Regions from separate parts of the Homo sapiens genome. Here region 2 is linked to region 1. The links come from fine-mapping of genetic effects on gene expression. Tissue or cell type: whole blood. Region 1 holds a variant in brackets; the other region holds the start of a gene. All regions are shown on one strand. Distances are between the middles of the regions.

Evidence for each region. PIP is the estimated chance that this variant, and not a neighbour inherited with it, causes the effect.
Region 2: LINC00664 starts here. The variant in region 1 is fine-mapped to the expression of LINC00664 in whole blood (TOPMed, PIP 0.90).

The regions. Positions count from the first base shown.
Region 1 is chr19:21,605,242-21,612,997 of GRCh38, reverse strand. All of the region lies in intron 3 of LOC105372323 (a long non-coding RNA gene), which reads right to left. Among named protein-coding and RNA genes, the nearest start is that of ZNF429, 100 kb to the right of the region's middle. The variant G/A (reference allele first, on the strand shown) is at 4,664.
Region 2 is chr19:21,479,268-21,486,530 of GRCh38, reverse strand. It overlaps LINC00664 (long intergenic non-protein coding RNA 664), which reads right to left and starts at 2,816. Exons shown (of 11, transcript NR_037194.1): 1 at 2,525-2,816; 2 at 378-426.

The DNA.
Region 1 (7,756 bases):
CTGCCCCATTTATAGTCCATTAGTGTGGATAGATGCATAAATGATTAATTTATTCTGGAGAATAATGCTTGTACATAAAAAGATATAAGGTATTGAGGCAGCCAAATGGTAGTAGTGATTAATTCTCCCCCTGAGATAGCAGTGAGGGAAATCAAGGAGGGTTTTATAGAGGAGGTGACATCTGAGTGGGTGTCAGAGTTTAACAGAAGCTTTTGTGTCAATGTTGATGCAGAGTATACCATTTTAAAGAAATTATTTTTTAGGCCACATGCAATGGCTCATGCCTGTAATCCCAGCACTTTTGGAGGTTGAGGCAGGCAGATCACCTGAGATCAGGAGTTCTGTAGTGGGATATTTTAAGGAATCAGAGATACTGAGGGATTGAGGAGGATATTTATTATTTAGGTGCACCGACCCAGTCAGATTTACATCCAAAGGACTGAGCCCTGAACAAAGAGCTAAGTCACCTTTTAAGCATTTTGTGGGGCAGGGGGAGATCTGTGCAGGGGGAAGCATATTACAGAAGTGAGAAACAAAGAGAGTTATTCAATTAATTGAAACATGCATTACATCATTTCTTACTTTTCAAGGAAAAACATGTTTTATGACTTGAGTTGATCTGTCTAGTGATCTTGCAGCTGCACAGCTAGAGAAACAGAGTCTTCACAATGCCTGGGAAAGAAGAGATAAGGCTCACTAGCCACAGAAAAACAGGCAGTTAATTTTTAAAGGACTCCAGCTCTTTCTCTTTCTCATACATACAACCGAGTTTCTGTTTACACATTCTTTAATTTCTTTTTATTCCTGTTCCATTCCTCCCTTTGGTGCTTTTTATAACAAAGATGTTAACAGAAAGCACCACTATCTGTCACCTCTTCACAGGGCTGTGCTTCTTCTTCTACTGGCAGTGGCTGATAATCTTGTTAATGCCATCAACTGCACGGTAGTTTTTTTGGTTACTATTGCCTCTATAGTTGACTGAATACTCCTAATAAACAGAGGTAAAAGGCAAGGGAGGATGAGGCAGATGCCAAAAATAAGCAAGAACCCACCAATGAGGGTTTTAATTTTTTTTTTTTTAAGGTTGAGAACCATCCTCCAAACAAGGAATCCAGGGACCACCCAGATCAAGTTTGAACTGGAACATAGGTGAACTCGTGCATTCTAGCTGTGATTTCCATGACAGCTCGGTCATTATCATCAATTTCTAGGCAACAGTTGGTTAAATTAAAATTTTCACATACTCCTCCTTCTGAGGCTAATAGGTAATCTAAACCCAGCCTATTTTGATATATGGCATGCCTCATTTGTGTTGCTTGTATTGCCAATAAATCTAGTGCCCTTGAGGTTTCATTGGTTATAATTTCAAGGACTGCCTGCAACCTTATGATGCGGTTGAGCATATAGATTGGGGTACGGTACCTCCATGACCCATCTTGCGCCTAGGTAGCTGGCCCATAACATTTAATGATTCTTTCAGGAGGCCATTTATTATCTTTCTAGTTTCCTATGTCCACATCTTTTTTGATATTTGTGTCTCTTTTTGTTATTATGCTTCTAGTTGTTTTTTTATTTTTATCATAAACTGGATACCCTAAGAGTTCCTCTTGCTTTAGAGGAATTAGAAAGAATGATGGCTTGATTGTTCCTAACGCACATGCCCCTGTCCATTTAGCTGGCAGTTGCTGATATGCCTGTGCTCCACAGATCCAATATAGGCCAGAGGGTGCCTTTCAAGAATTTGGAGCCTCTAGCTGATGCCAAGTGTGGCTTAGAGTAGAGAATTGAGAGAAAGGGTTTGGATCTCCATAGAGTTTTGTTTTTAGTCTCATCACAATACTGTTGCCCTAGGCAGGTTGTTTCTCACACTGCCTCTGTGAAAGCCTTTCCTCATCGGGTGATACAGTACTTTCCAATTATGGAGGTAGTTGACAACCAAACACTGGCTGAGGCTGTTGGTTCACTGGCAGTGTTAAGTGAAGGGATCTTGTGGCATTAATTCCTTTGCCTCCCATGGCCACTGGTCTTCCATATTAGTTCTTCTACATACATAGCATGAGGAAATTCCTAAGCTGCCAGCTATGTTTTCAGCTAGTTGAGCAAATAAGTTTTTGGTTGATGGGGGGAAGCTTCAGCATTGACTGATCAAAATGCTTATAGAATGACTTATGGACCTGGAATTGTGGGGTTGGATACATTTGAGTCCTTCTAGTCTTTTTGACAATTAGTAGTGGAACTCCAAGTTCTGCTCCTTGTCTATCAACTCATAATAGTGTCATCTGTCCTGTAGACCAAGAAGGTAGCTCTGGCTTTAAGATAGTAAAATTTAAAGGATTGTATGTTCTTGTCTTACAATCTGGTTTGGTTGACATACTAATTAGCAGAGCAGTCCTTCCTGAATGTAAGTGTTGGAGCTGTGTTAGCATAGACCACTGAATGTTCAGTCTCGACATCTGATTTGTGGTTTTCTGTACAGATGTTTAGGACTGTTGCTGCTAAGTCTCTCTTGTGTTAAACTATTGCAGACTGTTTCCGGTTGTATGTGCAGGTTCCTAACTTTGTTCCTGTACATTCATAGTCAGTAACGTACAGTAGAGGTTTAACTAGGGTATTCCTTATCCAGGTAGTGTGTACACAGTGTGGGCATTCTTCTAGGGATTTCTCCCCTTCTAGTATAGGCAGAAATGGTAACAACGTCAGTGTATGTAATAGAAACATGCTTACACTACACATGGGCATGGCAAACCTTCCTCTGGGCATAGACGTTTGCAGTATTTGCAGTAATAACATAACAACAGAACAATCAGTATTGACAGAATTATAACTAGGCTTATAAATTGTATCCACATTTACTTATCCGGAGATTGTCCCCTTAGCTTTGGCTGTGCGTAGACTAGTCAGCTTCCAGGATGTGACTAGAGCAGAGCTTACAGGATCCTCAAGCTTCAGCCGTGCATAGACTGACCAGCCTCCAGTGTGGTCAGAGCAGGGCAGTTGTCCTTCTTACCGGTGGTTGGGTTTCACCATGGGACTATTCGGGTGGGGCAATCTGGGTCTTGTTGGCTAATCCACTGTTCGTCGTTGGGAGTCACTGCTGCCACTGGTTTCAGCCGACTATGGTGAATCCAAGGTGTGAAACGTGCAACTTTAACAGCAGTGGGACTAGGCATGATCACGATATGGGGCCTATCCTATATGGGTCCTAGTGTGGTTGGATTCCATTTTTTTTCCTTTTTTTTTTTTTTTGAGATGGAGTCTCGCTCTGTCGCCGAGGCTGGAGTGCAGTGGCGCAATCTCAGCTCACTGCAAGCTCCACCTCCTGGGTTCACGCCATTCTCCTGCCTCAGACTCCTGAGTAGCTGGGACTACAGGGGCCCGCCATCATGCCGGGCTAATTTTTTGTATTTTTAGTAGAGATGGGTTTTCACCGTGTTAGCCAGGATGGTCTCGATCTCCTGACCATGTGATCCACCTGCCTTGGCCTCCCAAAATGCTTGGATTACAGGCGTGAGCCACCACACCCTGCCTCCATTTTTTAACTTAAACAAAATCCTTAGGTTTGAAAGGGTGTACTGGGTCTGTTTGACTTATAGGCATTTTTTTTCTATACCTAGCCATGCATTTTTGCATGGCCATACTTAAAGCCTGAATTTGCCTTCTTAAAGTTAGTTCTTCTAGTTTACAGAGATTACCTTTAATCTGACTTATGATGGGGGGTGGCTGGCTGAATAAAATCTTACAGGGCGAATACCCAGTTGTTTGGTGGGAGTGCACCTGACTCGGAGGAGGACAACAGACAAGACCTGATCCTACTTTTGATGAGTTTGACAAAATTTCTTCAGCAGCTGTTTGAGTGTCTGGTTTATGCACTCCACTTTACCTGAGCTCTGCGGCCTGTAGGCTGTATGTAATTTCCACTTTATTTTAATAGTCAAGTAAAGTCCTGAACTATTTCAGCCACAAATGTTGGTCCATTGTTTGATCTTAGAGTTAGAGACAGTCCAAATCTGGGAATAATGTCTTTTAACAACACCTTGGTCACCTCTAGTGCCTTCCCTGTCTGGGTGAGGAAGGCCTTGACTTATCCTGAAAAGGTGCAAATGAACACCAACATGTACTGATAGCCCTCCCTCTCAGGGCAATTAGGTGAAGTCTATAAGCAGTTTTTCACAGGGCACGGCTCCCTGGCTCCTGTTTCCTGAACTCCCAGGGGCGGAGTAGGCCCTCCTTGTCATGGATTGTTCTGAGTGCAAGTTAAACACTGTTTGTTTACAAATGGCTTGAGTAATAGCAGTGAGCCATGGTGCATAGAAATGATGCCTTAATAATGTCTTTAGTGCTGTTTTTTTTTTTTTATGTGAGTTCTTTGGTGGAATTGTTTTACAAATCTGGAGGTCACCATTTCTGGTATGGCTAGCCTCCCACTGGAGAATTTTTACCATCTTCCTTTAGTGTAGTTCTTATTTTTCTGGGCAAAACAAGCCCTTTCACTTGGAGCATAGCTTGGGATCTCCGGGAGGGGAATCTCTGGGAAGAGAAGCATAGCTAAGACTTCCTCTTTAGAAGGTGGAGTTGTCATTGCAGCCTGCTTTGCCTCTTTGTCTGCTTTTTTATTTTTATTTTTTTAGCCTTTAGTGTTCTTCCTTTTTTGGTTCCCCTTGCA[G/A]TGCATCACTGCCACCTCTTTTGGGTCCTATACAGCATTTAAGAGCTGTAGAATTTCTTCCTTGTACTTTATTTCTTTACTTTCAGCAGTTAAAAGTCTTTTTTCTTTGTAAATCACCTCATGAACATGCAAAGTGGCAGAAGCATATTTGGAATCTGTGTAAATATTTGTCTTTTGGTCTTTTGCTAGCCAGAGAGCTCTTGTCAGAGATATTAGCTCTGCTTTCTAAGCAGAAGTTTCTGTAGGCAGAGACTGCACCTCTACTACTGAGTCCAAAGTCACCACTGCATACCCAGCTCGGCAGACTCCCTTTAGTGATTTTAGTGAAAATCACTGATTTTCAGCAGCCTCAGGGTTAAATGGAGTGCACAATCAAAATGCCTTACAAAGTCTTTCATAAAACTTTAGTATGAAACTGCTTCCATCAGTAAAATATTTAATGTCCAGTTTCCCTGAGGGGCTATCAAATCTCTCTGGCTTGAGAAAACTTCATCTATCATGTTGACACAGAAATGAAAGGGGTCTCCTGGCACTGACTTGATGAGGAGCAATGTAGCCAGGTTTAGGCTATTCACAGTCTCTAAAGTCAGTTTATTAGCTTCTTGCACCAGTAGGGCAGTGGCAGCTAGTGCTTTAATAGCTTTAAAACAAAGAGGCCATCCAAGTGCCACAAAGTCTAATTGCCTGGATAAGTATGTCACTGGGTGATGCCATAAACTTATGGCTTGAGTTAGAACCCTTATGGCCTCCCTTTCACTTGTGGACATACAAGAAGATAGGCTTAGTTAGTTTATCCGGCAGTCCTAAAGCTGGGGCCTGAGTCAAGCTTTTTTGATTTCTTTAAACCCCTTCTCCTGGGAGCGTCTCTGCCCGGCCGCCATCCCATCTAGGAAGTGAGGAGCGTCTCTGCCCGGCCCCCCATCGTCTGAGATGTGGGGAGCGCCTCTGCCCCGCCGCCCCGTCTGGGAGGTGAGGAGCGTCTCTGCCCGGCCGCCCCGTCTGAGAAGTGAGGAGCCCCTCCGCCCGGCAGCCGCCCCGTCTGAGAGGTGAGGAGCCCCTCCGCCTGGCAGCCGCCCGGTCTGGGAAGTGAGGAGCGTCTCCGCCCGGCAGCCACCCCATCCGGGAGGGAGGTAGGGGTCAGCCCCCCGCCCGGCCAGCCGCCCCATCTGGGAGGGAGGTGGGGGGTCAGCCCCCGCCCGGCCAGCCGCCCCGTCTGGTAGGTGGGGGGTGCCTCTGCCCGGCCGCCTCTACTGGGAAGTGAGGAGCCCCTCTGCCCGGCCACCACCCCGTCTGGGAGGTGTACCCAACAGCTCATTGAGAACGGGCCATGATGACAATGGCGGTTTTGTGGAATAGAAAAGGGGGAAAGGTGGGGAAAAGATTGAGAAATCGGATGGTTGCTGTGTCTGTGTAGAAAGTAGTAGACATGGGAGACTTTTCATTTTGTTCTGTACTAAGAAAAATTCTTCTGCCTTGGGATGCTGTTGATCTATGACCTTACCCCTAACCCTGTGCTCTCTGAAACATGTGCTGTGTCCACTCAGGGTTAAATGGATTAAGGGTGGTGCAAGATGTGCTTTGTTAAACAGATGCTTGAAGGCAGCATGCTCGTTAAGAGTCATCACCACTCCCTAATCTCAAGTACCCAGGGACACAAACACTGCGGAAGGCCGCAGGGTCCTCTGCCTAGGAAAACCAGAGACCTTTGTTCACTTGTTTATCTGCTGGCCTTCCCTCCACTATTGTCCTATGACCCTGCCAAATCCCCCTCTGCGAGAAACACCCAAGAATGATCAATTTAAAAAAAAAAAAAAAAAAAAGATAAGCTCCATGGCATCTGCCATGAAAGGCTCTGGCATCTGCCACGAAAGGCTCTACCCACATCAAAGGTGTTCCTTGCAAGACCACTGGACTGCCTGGCCCAGACCAGGAGATTCTTTTTGTCTCTGTTGCTCTTCATGGACTGGTTCATTAACCTTTTTTTCCCATTTCTTTTCTCTTGATGTTAAATGTTATTTTGTTTGTTGTAGATGTTTAACCCATAACATTTATATATTGATTAGGTGTACTATTATGTATAATTTGCAATATAGAGTGACTTGTGGAGTGGCTTCAAAAAAAAATAAATAAATAAAAGCCTTCTCCTGGTTGGCCTCCTAGAGGAGAGGCTCTTTCTTTCCTCCTCTTTGTGGCTTTGTATAATGGCTTAGCCATGAGCAAGAAATTTGGGATCTAAATGTGGCAGAACCTTGCTGCCCTTAGGAACTCTCTTATTTGACACCAGGTTGTTGGAGTAGGAAGTACACAAACAGCCTGCTTTTGTTTACTACTAAGCCATCTTTCCTCTTGGTTTATATAAAAGCTTAAATACTGGACACTTTTAGAGCAGATTTGAGCTGTTTTCTGATACTTTATATCCTGCCTTTCACAGCAGGTGCAGGGGGTCTTGGGTTTTTCCTGGGTGCAGTAGCCCTTGGCCGGTGGTTTTTTTTTTTCATACCATGGCCTTGACAATTCTCCTTATTCTTTTTATGTTTTTGAGATGGAGTCTTGCTCTGTCACCCAGGCTGGAGTGCAGTGGCGCGATAGCTCACTGCAAGCTCCGCCTCCAGGGTTCACGCCTTTCTTCTGCCTCAGCCTCCCGAGTAGCTGGGACTACAGGTGCCTGCCACCATGCCCGGCTTTTTTTTTTTTTTTTTTTTTTTTTTTTTGTATTTTTAGTAGAGACAGGGTTTCACCGTGTTAGCCAGGATGGTCTCGACCTCCTGACGTCGTGATCCACCTGCCTCGGCCTCCCAAAGTGCTGGGATTACAAGCGTCAGCCACCATGCCCGGCCCATTCTCCTTATTCTTTTGACGTGTATCCTTCTAGTGTCCTTTCCTTTTGCACCGTGCACATAAATCTCTCTCTAGCCTTGGCCAGCTTTCAAACTCCTGTCCGGACTAGCCTTTTCCGTGACTGTGTTCACGCCTGCGTCCATGCCTCTTTGCAAAGCCAGCTTCTCTTCCCACAAGGGCTGCTGCTAGTAAATTAGCCTTTCTTAAGCCTCTGATCAGCTTTCTTCTTTGCCTCCTGATCTCGTTAATGTACAC
Region 2 (7,263 bases), 130 kb after region 1:
TAAGAGTCATCACCACTCCCTAATCTCAAGTACCCAGGGACACAAACACTGCGGAAGGCCACAGGGTCCTCTGCCTAGGAAAACCAGAGACCTTTGTTCACTTGTTTATCTGCTGACCTTCCCTCCACTATTGTCCTATGACCCTGCCAAATCCCCCTCTGCGAGAAACACCCAAGAATGATCAATAAAAAAAAAAAAAAAAAAAAAAAAGAGTATGTCAGCATAGTATTAGGCCCAGTGACATGTCACAATATCCTCTTTGGGCAGAACCTAGAAAGAAAGAGGCAGAGAGTCATGTGAGCTAGGTGCTGAGCCCAGTAATACATCACAATCCCTTCTGTAAGCAGGAGCCAGGCAGGAGAAGAGAGCCATATTACCTGTGTGATGGGTGCAGGGATATGTCACAAGATCTTCTGTAGGCAGGACCTAGGCAGTAGAGTTACATCACCTGGGTGTTGGACTCAGCAAAAGTCACAGTGGCCCACATGGGCAGGGCACAGGCAGGAGAGTCATATAACCTATGTGTGGGGCCCAGCCATATGACACAATGTCCCCTGTGGAAGAGCCAAGGCTGGAGAGAAGATTCACACCACCTGGGTACAAGATGTAGTGATGTCAAAATGTCCCCTGTGGGTAGTGCCAAGGCAGTAGAATAGTCACACCACCTCGGTACTGGGTCCAGGGATATGTCACAATCCCTTCCATGGGCTAGGCCAGGGCAGGGGCACCAAATCACTCTGGTGCTGGGTAAAGTCATATGTCATAATGACACCAGCAGGAATGTTCAGACATGAGATTATGCATCTGGACTGGAAAGAATCAACACATCAAAAACATGACCAGACCGTGCACAGTGGCTCACACCTGTAATCCCAGCACTTTTGGAGGCCACGGAGGATACCTGGAACCCAGGAGTCCAAGACTATCCGGGGCCAACATGGTGAGACAGCATCTCTATTAAAAAATAATAATTAAAGTTAAAAAAGAAATATATATCCAGAGCATGGACAACATAGCAAGATCACATCTCTACTAAAAAGATGATACAGGCTGGGTGCCAGTGGCTCACGCCTGTAATCCCAGAACTTTGGGAGGCTGAGGTGGGCGGATCACAAGGTCAAGAGATCGAGATCATCCTGGCCAACATTGTAAAACCCCATCTCTACTAAAAACACAAAAATTAGCTGGGCGTGGTGGCGCACACCTGTAGTCCCAGCTACTCGGGAGGCTGAGGCAGGAGAATCACTTGAACCCAGGAGGTGGAGGTTGCAGTGAGCTGAGATCATGCCACTGCACTCCAGCCTGGGTGACAGTGTGAGATTGTCTCAAAAAAAAAAAAAAAAAAAAAAAAAAGATGATAGATAGATAGATCAGAAAGACAGAGACAGAGCCAGCCAGATAGACAGAGCTGGACAGACAGAGAGAGATGATAGACAGATAGATAGATAGATAGCCAGCCAGCCAGGCAGGATGGTGCATGCCTGTAATCCCAGCACTTTGGGAGGTCAAGGCTGGTGGATTGCTTGATCACAGGAGTTCGAGACCAGTCTGAGAAACATGGCAGAACCTCATTTCTACAAAAATAAAAAGTAAAAAATGCAAAATAAAGAGCCAGTGTGGTGGTACGTGACTGTAGTACCAGCTACTGGGAGAACTAAGACGGAGGATCCCCTGAGCCCAAGGAGGTCCAGGCTGCAGTGAGCTGTGATCACACACCTGCACTTCAGCCTGGGTGACTAAGAAGACCTCATTTAAAAAAACATACACACACACACACACACACACACACGTATGAAAGAAGAAATTTAAAACAGCAACTTCAGTGTGCAGGAAGGTGCTTAAGAGAGAAAACAAAACAAAACAAAACAATAGTAACTCAATGTACCGTGGAAACAAACTCAAAGTGGGGCTAGAAAAAAAGAAAAAAAAACCCAGAAAGATCCCGAGCCTCAGCTACTCTGGAGGCAGAAACAGGAGGATGGGGCCGGGCATGGTGGCTCACACCTGTAATCCCAGTGCTTTGGGAGGCCAAGGTGGACGAATCACCTGAGGTCGGGAGTTCCAGACCAGCCTGACCAACATGGAGACCCCATCTCTACTACAAATACAAAATTAGCTGGGTGTGGTGGCGCACGCCTGTAATCCCAGCTACTCAGGAGGCTGAGGCGGGAGAATCGCTTGAACTCGGGAGGTGGAGGTTGCAGTAAGCCGAGATTGCCCCATTGCACCCCAGCCTGGGCAACAAGAGCGAAAACTCAAAGAAAGAAAAACAGACAGAAAGAGAAAGAGAAGAGAAGAGAAGAGAAGAGAAGAGAAGAGAAGAGAAGAGAAGAGAAGAGAAGAGAAGAGAAGAGAAGAGAGAAAAGAAAAGAAAAAAGAAAAGGGAGGATGACCTGGGTGAGTCCGGGCAGGTGGAGGGCGCGTGAGCCGTAATCGCACCCTCTGCTGGACCTAAGCGGTACTGCCGCGGGCGAGAGCTATCTAGTCCGTCTTAAACATCTCAAGCTGGAGGCCAAACCCTAACCTTGGGGCTGACATCTGGTCGACCCAGCGGCTGGACAGAGAAGCCAGCCGGTGGCGAGGGCAGAGGCCCACCGGGTCCACACTACGCGCCAAGTGTGGCCGAGTGTGGCGCGCGGGGCCTGAGCCCGTCCGTCTGGAGTATAACTCCGCCAACCTTCCTTCCCAGCGCTCTCCCACACTGTCTGCTGGTCCACTAAGACGGGGAAGAGCTCAAGGGGGGGCGACCGGCCCCTACTCCCCGCCGACCCCTCCTCCCCGCTGCTGAGTGGGAGAGGCCCAGGACCTGGACCGCCACTTCCAGACCACACAGCCACCCCTGAAACGGGGGCTGCCGGGCCACACCCTCTGACGCCCGCGCCTCAGCCATCCCACCACGCTCCCACAGCGGCGTCCCAGCCAGGGCGACGAGCCACCCGCAGGGTGGGAAGAGGAGGAAACCAGAGGGGGTGGACACCAAGCAAGGGAGCCCCACGAACCTGCGGCACCCTCAGAGCAGCATGTGGCCCCTTCGGCGCTCGGAAAGCCCACGGGCGGACCCTTCCAGGCTCTCGGAAGATGGCACAGGACGGTCCCTGATTCTCCATGGGGACTTGGGAAAAGAAATCGGCCAGAGCCTCAAACGGCCAGGACACACATGGGCCCGCAACCGGGCCTGGGGGGTGTCCCCGGCCCCCTGCATCATGCCTGGTGGGTTCCGAGGGTCGGGCCTCCGCAGCTGCGGTGAGCTGGGGACCAGCCCGGGCAGCCCCACACTAAGCTCATGCCGGGAGCACGGTAACAGCCTCCCCTCCACAGCCCTACACGCCAGAGCTATGACTCACAAGGGACGCGCCAGAGCTCTGGCACCATCGGGACTGTTCTGCTGAAGTCTGCAGGACTCCCGAGCTCTGCTCAGCTCACAGCGGGGGCTGTCCCTCCCTCGGCAGCTGCCACTGGAGCTCCAGAGGACAAGAGAACTCTAGAAAGGTGGCCGCCCCTGTGGGCCACAAGCCGTGCCGTCAGCCCAAGCGGCCTCTGGAGGAGGCCTGTACTGCTAGCCGGCCGCTAGGAGGCGCCAAACAACCACCCACGCAATAATCAGCCAGGAAAGAATGAAAAAATACATATATATGCATATACTGATCAAAGAACAATCATACCCAGTCAGGGCGACGATTTTCTAGGCAACAAGGAAGAAGCCAACTTTGAGGTAGGGACAGTAGAGAAGACACAGTTGACCCAGTCTGTGCACAGGCTTCCTTTTCTGTGAGACCTTGGTTTAGGGGACATAACTATATTTCTTTGTAACACAATTACTTATTATAAACGTTATGTTTGTTTATTTACTTATTTGCTTTTTGATTGGAGTCTTTTTTTTTTTTTTTTGAGACGGAGTCTTGCTTTGTCACCCAGGCTAGAGTGCAGTGGGGCAATCTTGGCTCACTGCCATCTCCGCCTCCCGGGTTCAAGCGATTCTAGTACCTCAACCTCCTGAGGAACTGGTATTACAGGCACGCACCACCTCGCCCGGCTAATTTTTTATTGTTAGTAGACACGGGGTTTCGCCATGTTGGCCAGGCTGGTCTCAAACTCCTGACCTCAGGTGATCCAGCCGCCTCAGTCTCCCAAAGTGTTGGGATTACAGGCGTGAGCCACCACGCCCAGCCGATTTTTTTTTATTTCTTATGTGTATGGTCCTGTGATAGACCAGGGGACTTGTAACCTCAGAGTCCATGAGGCCAGAAGTTAACGTCCTAAATGTCTATTTAGAATGAACTTAAATGAACCAAACTCTCTGCCACGAAACTCTCAGAAAGACAAGAGATTAAAAAAAAAATTGCAACCTGGCAATGAATCACGCCTGTAATCCCAGTACTTTAGGAGGCCAAGGCAGGTGCATCGCTTCATCCCAGGAGTTCGAGACCATCCTGGGCAACATGGTAAAACATCATCTCAACCCAAAATACAAAAATTAGCCAGTTTCATAACCTGATCTCAAAATACATAAATAAATAGATTAAAATTCAAAAATAAAATTTAAATTTTAAAATGCTGAGTTCTGTTCATTTTGCTTCCTACCCAGAGAAGGGCATAAAATATCTGTTGCTTGCTTGTTTGTTTTTGACAGGGTCTCACTCTGTCACCCAGGCTGGAGTGCAGTGGCACCATCATGGCTTACTGCAGCCTCAACCTCCCCAGACTTAGATGATCCTCCCACCTCAGCCTCCCAAGTAGCTGAAATCACAGGTGTGTGCTGGCACACCTGGCTAATTTTTGTATTTTCGGTACAGACAAGTTTTCCACATGTTTCCCAGTCTGGTCTCAAACTCCTGGGCTCAAGTGATTCTCCCGTGTTGGCCTCCAGAAGTGTAGGGATTGCAGGAATCGGCCACCACGCCTGGCCTTACTTAATACATCTGATCTCACTACATTCTGACACTAAAGCCTCACATCAAAAAGTTAGGAAGATCTCAAGTTAACAACATAACATCACAACTAAAAGATCTAGAGAACAAGGCCAGGCACGGTGGCTCACGCCTGTAAACCTAGCACTTTGGGAGGCCGAGGCGGGCGGATCACAAGGTCAGGAGATCGAGACCATCCTGGCTAACATGGTGAAACCCCATCTCTACTAAAAATACAAAAAATTAGCCAGGTGTGGTGGCACATCCCTGTAGTCCATCCCAGCTACTTGGGAAACTGAGGCAGGAGAATCGCTTTAACCTAGGAGGCGGAGGTTGCAGTGAGCCGAGATTGCACCACTGCACTCCAGCCTGGGCAACAGAGCGAGACTCCATCTCAAAAAATAAATAAATACAATAAAATAAATAAATAAAAGAACTAGAAAACCAAAAGCAAACAAATCCCAAAGCTAGAAGAAAACAAGAAATAATCAAAATCAGAGCTGCACTGAACAAGACAGTGACATGAAAACACATTCAAAAGACCAACAAATCCAGGAAGTATTTTTTTGGAAAAAATAACTAAAAAGACCACTAGCTAGACTAATAAGAAGAGAGAGAAGATTCAAATAAACATAATCAGAAACAATAAGGGGGATATTACCACTGACCTCAGAGAAGAGAACCATCAGAGAATATTATGAACAAGTCGATGCACATGAACTAGAAAATCTAGAAGAAATGGAAAAATTTCTGGAAGCATACACCCTATCAAGACTGAACCAGGAAGAAACTGAATCCCTGAACAGAACAATAGTGAGTTCTGAAATTGAGGCAGTAATAAATAGCCTACCAATCAATAAAAGTCCAGGACCAGGTGGACTCACAGCTGAATTCTCCCAGATGTACAAAGAAGAGCTGGTACTGTTCCTACTGAAACTATTCCAAAAAATGTAGGAGAAGGGACTCTCCCTAAACTCATTCTATGAGGCCAGGACCAACCATCTTGACATGAAAACCTGAAAAAGATACAACAAAAAAGAAAGCTTCATGTCAACATCCTTGATGAACATTGATGTAAAAATCTTCAACAAAATACTAGCAAAGTAAATTCAGCAGCAAATCAAAAAACTTATCCACCATGATCAGGTAGGCTTCATCTCTGGGATGCAAGTTTGGTTCAACATATCCAAATCAATAAATATGATTCATTACAGAAACAGAACTAGGGGCAAAAACCACATGATTATTTCAATAGATGCAGAAAAGACTTTCATTACAGTTCAACATCTATTCATGTTAAAAACTCTCAATAAACTAGGTATAGAAAAAAAAGACACCTCAAAATGATAAGAGCCATCTATGACATACCCACAGCCAACATTATACTGAATGGGCGAAAGCTAGAAGCATTCTCCTTGAAAACCAGAATGAGACAAGAATGTCGTCTCTCATCATTCCTATTCAACATAGTACTGGAAGTTCTGGTCTGGGTAATCAGGCAAGAGAAAGAAAGAAAGGGCATCCAAATACGAAGAAAGGAAATCAAACTATTCTTGTTTGCAGATTACATGATCCTATATATAGAAAACCCCATAGTCTCAGCTCAAAAGCTCCTTAAGCTGATAAACAACTTTGGCAAAGTCTCAGAATGCAAAATCAATGTGCAAAAATTACCAGCATTCCTATACACAAACAACACTCAAGCCGAGAGCCAAATCATGAACAAACTCACATTCACAGTTGCCACAAAAAGAATAAAATATCTAGGAATACACCTAACTAGGGAGGTGAAAGATCTCAAGGAGAACTACAAACTGCTGCTCAAAGAAATCAGAAATGACACAAACAAAACACATTCCATGCTCATGAATAGAAAGAATCAATATCATTAAAATGTCCATACTGCCAAAAGCAATTTATATATTCAATGCTATTCCCAATAAACAACCGCTGACATTCTCATAGAATTTAAAGTAATTATTTCAAAATTTATATGAAACCAAAAAAGCCTGAATAGCCAAGGCAATCTTAAGCAAAAATAACAAAGCTGGAGGCATCACGCTACTCAACTTCCAGCTATACTACAGGGCTACAGCACCAAAACAGCATGGTACTAGTACAAGAACAGAAACATAGATCAATGGAACAGAATAGAGGGCCAGAAATCAAGCTGCACACCTGCAACCATCTGACCTTTGACAAAGCTGACAAAAAGAAGCAATGGGGAAAGAATTTGCAATAAATTGTGCTGGGAGAACTGGCTAGTCATATGCAGGAAATTGAACCTGGATCCCTTCCTTACACCATACACAAAAAATAACTCAAGATGGATTAAAGACTTAAATGTAAAACCCAA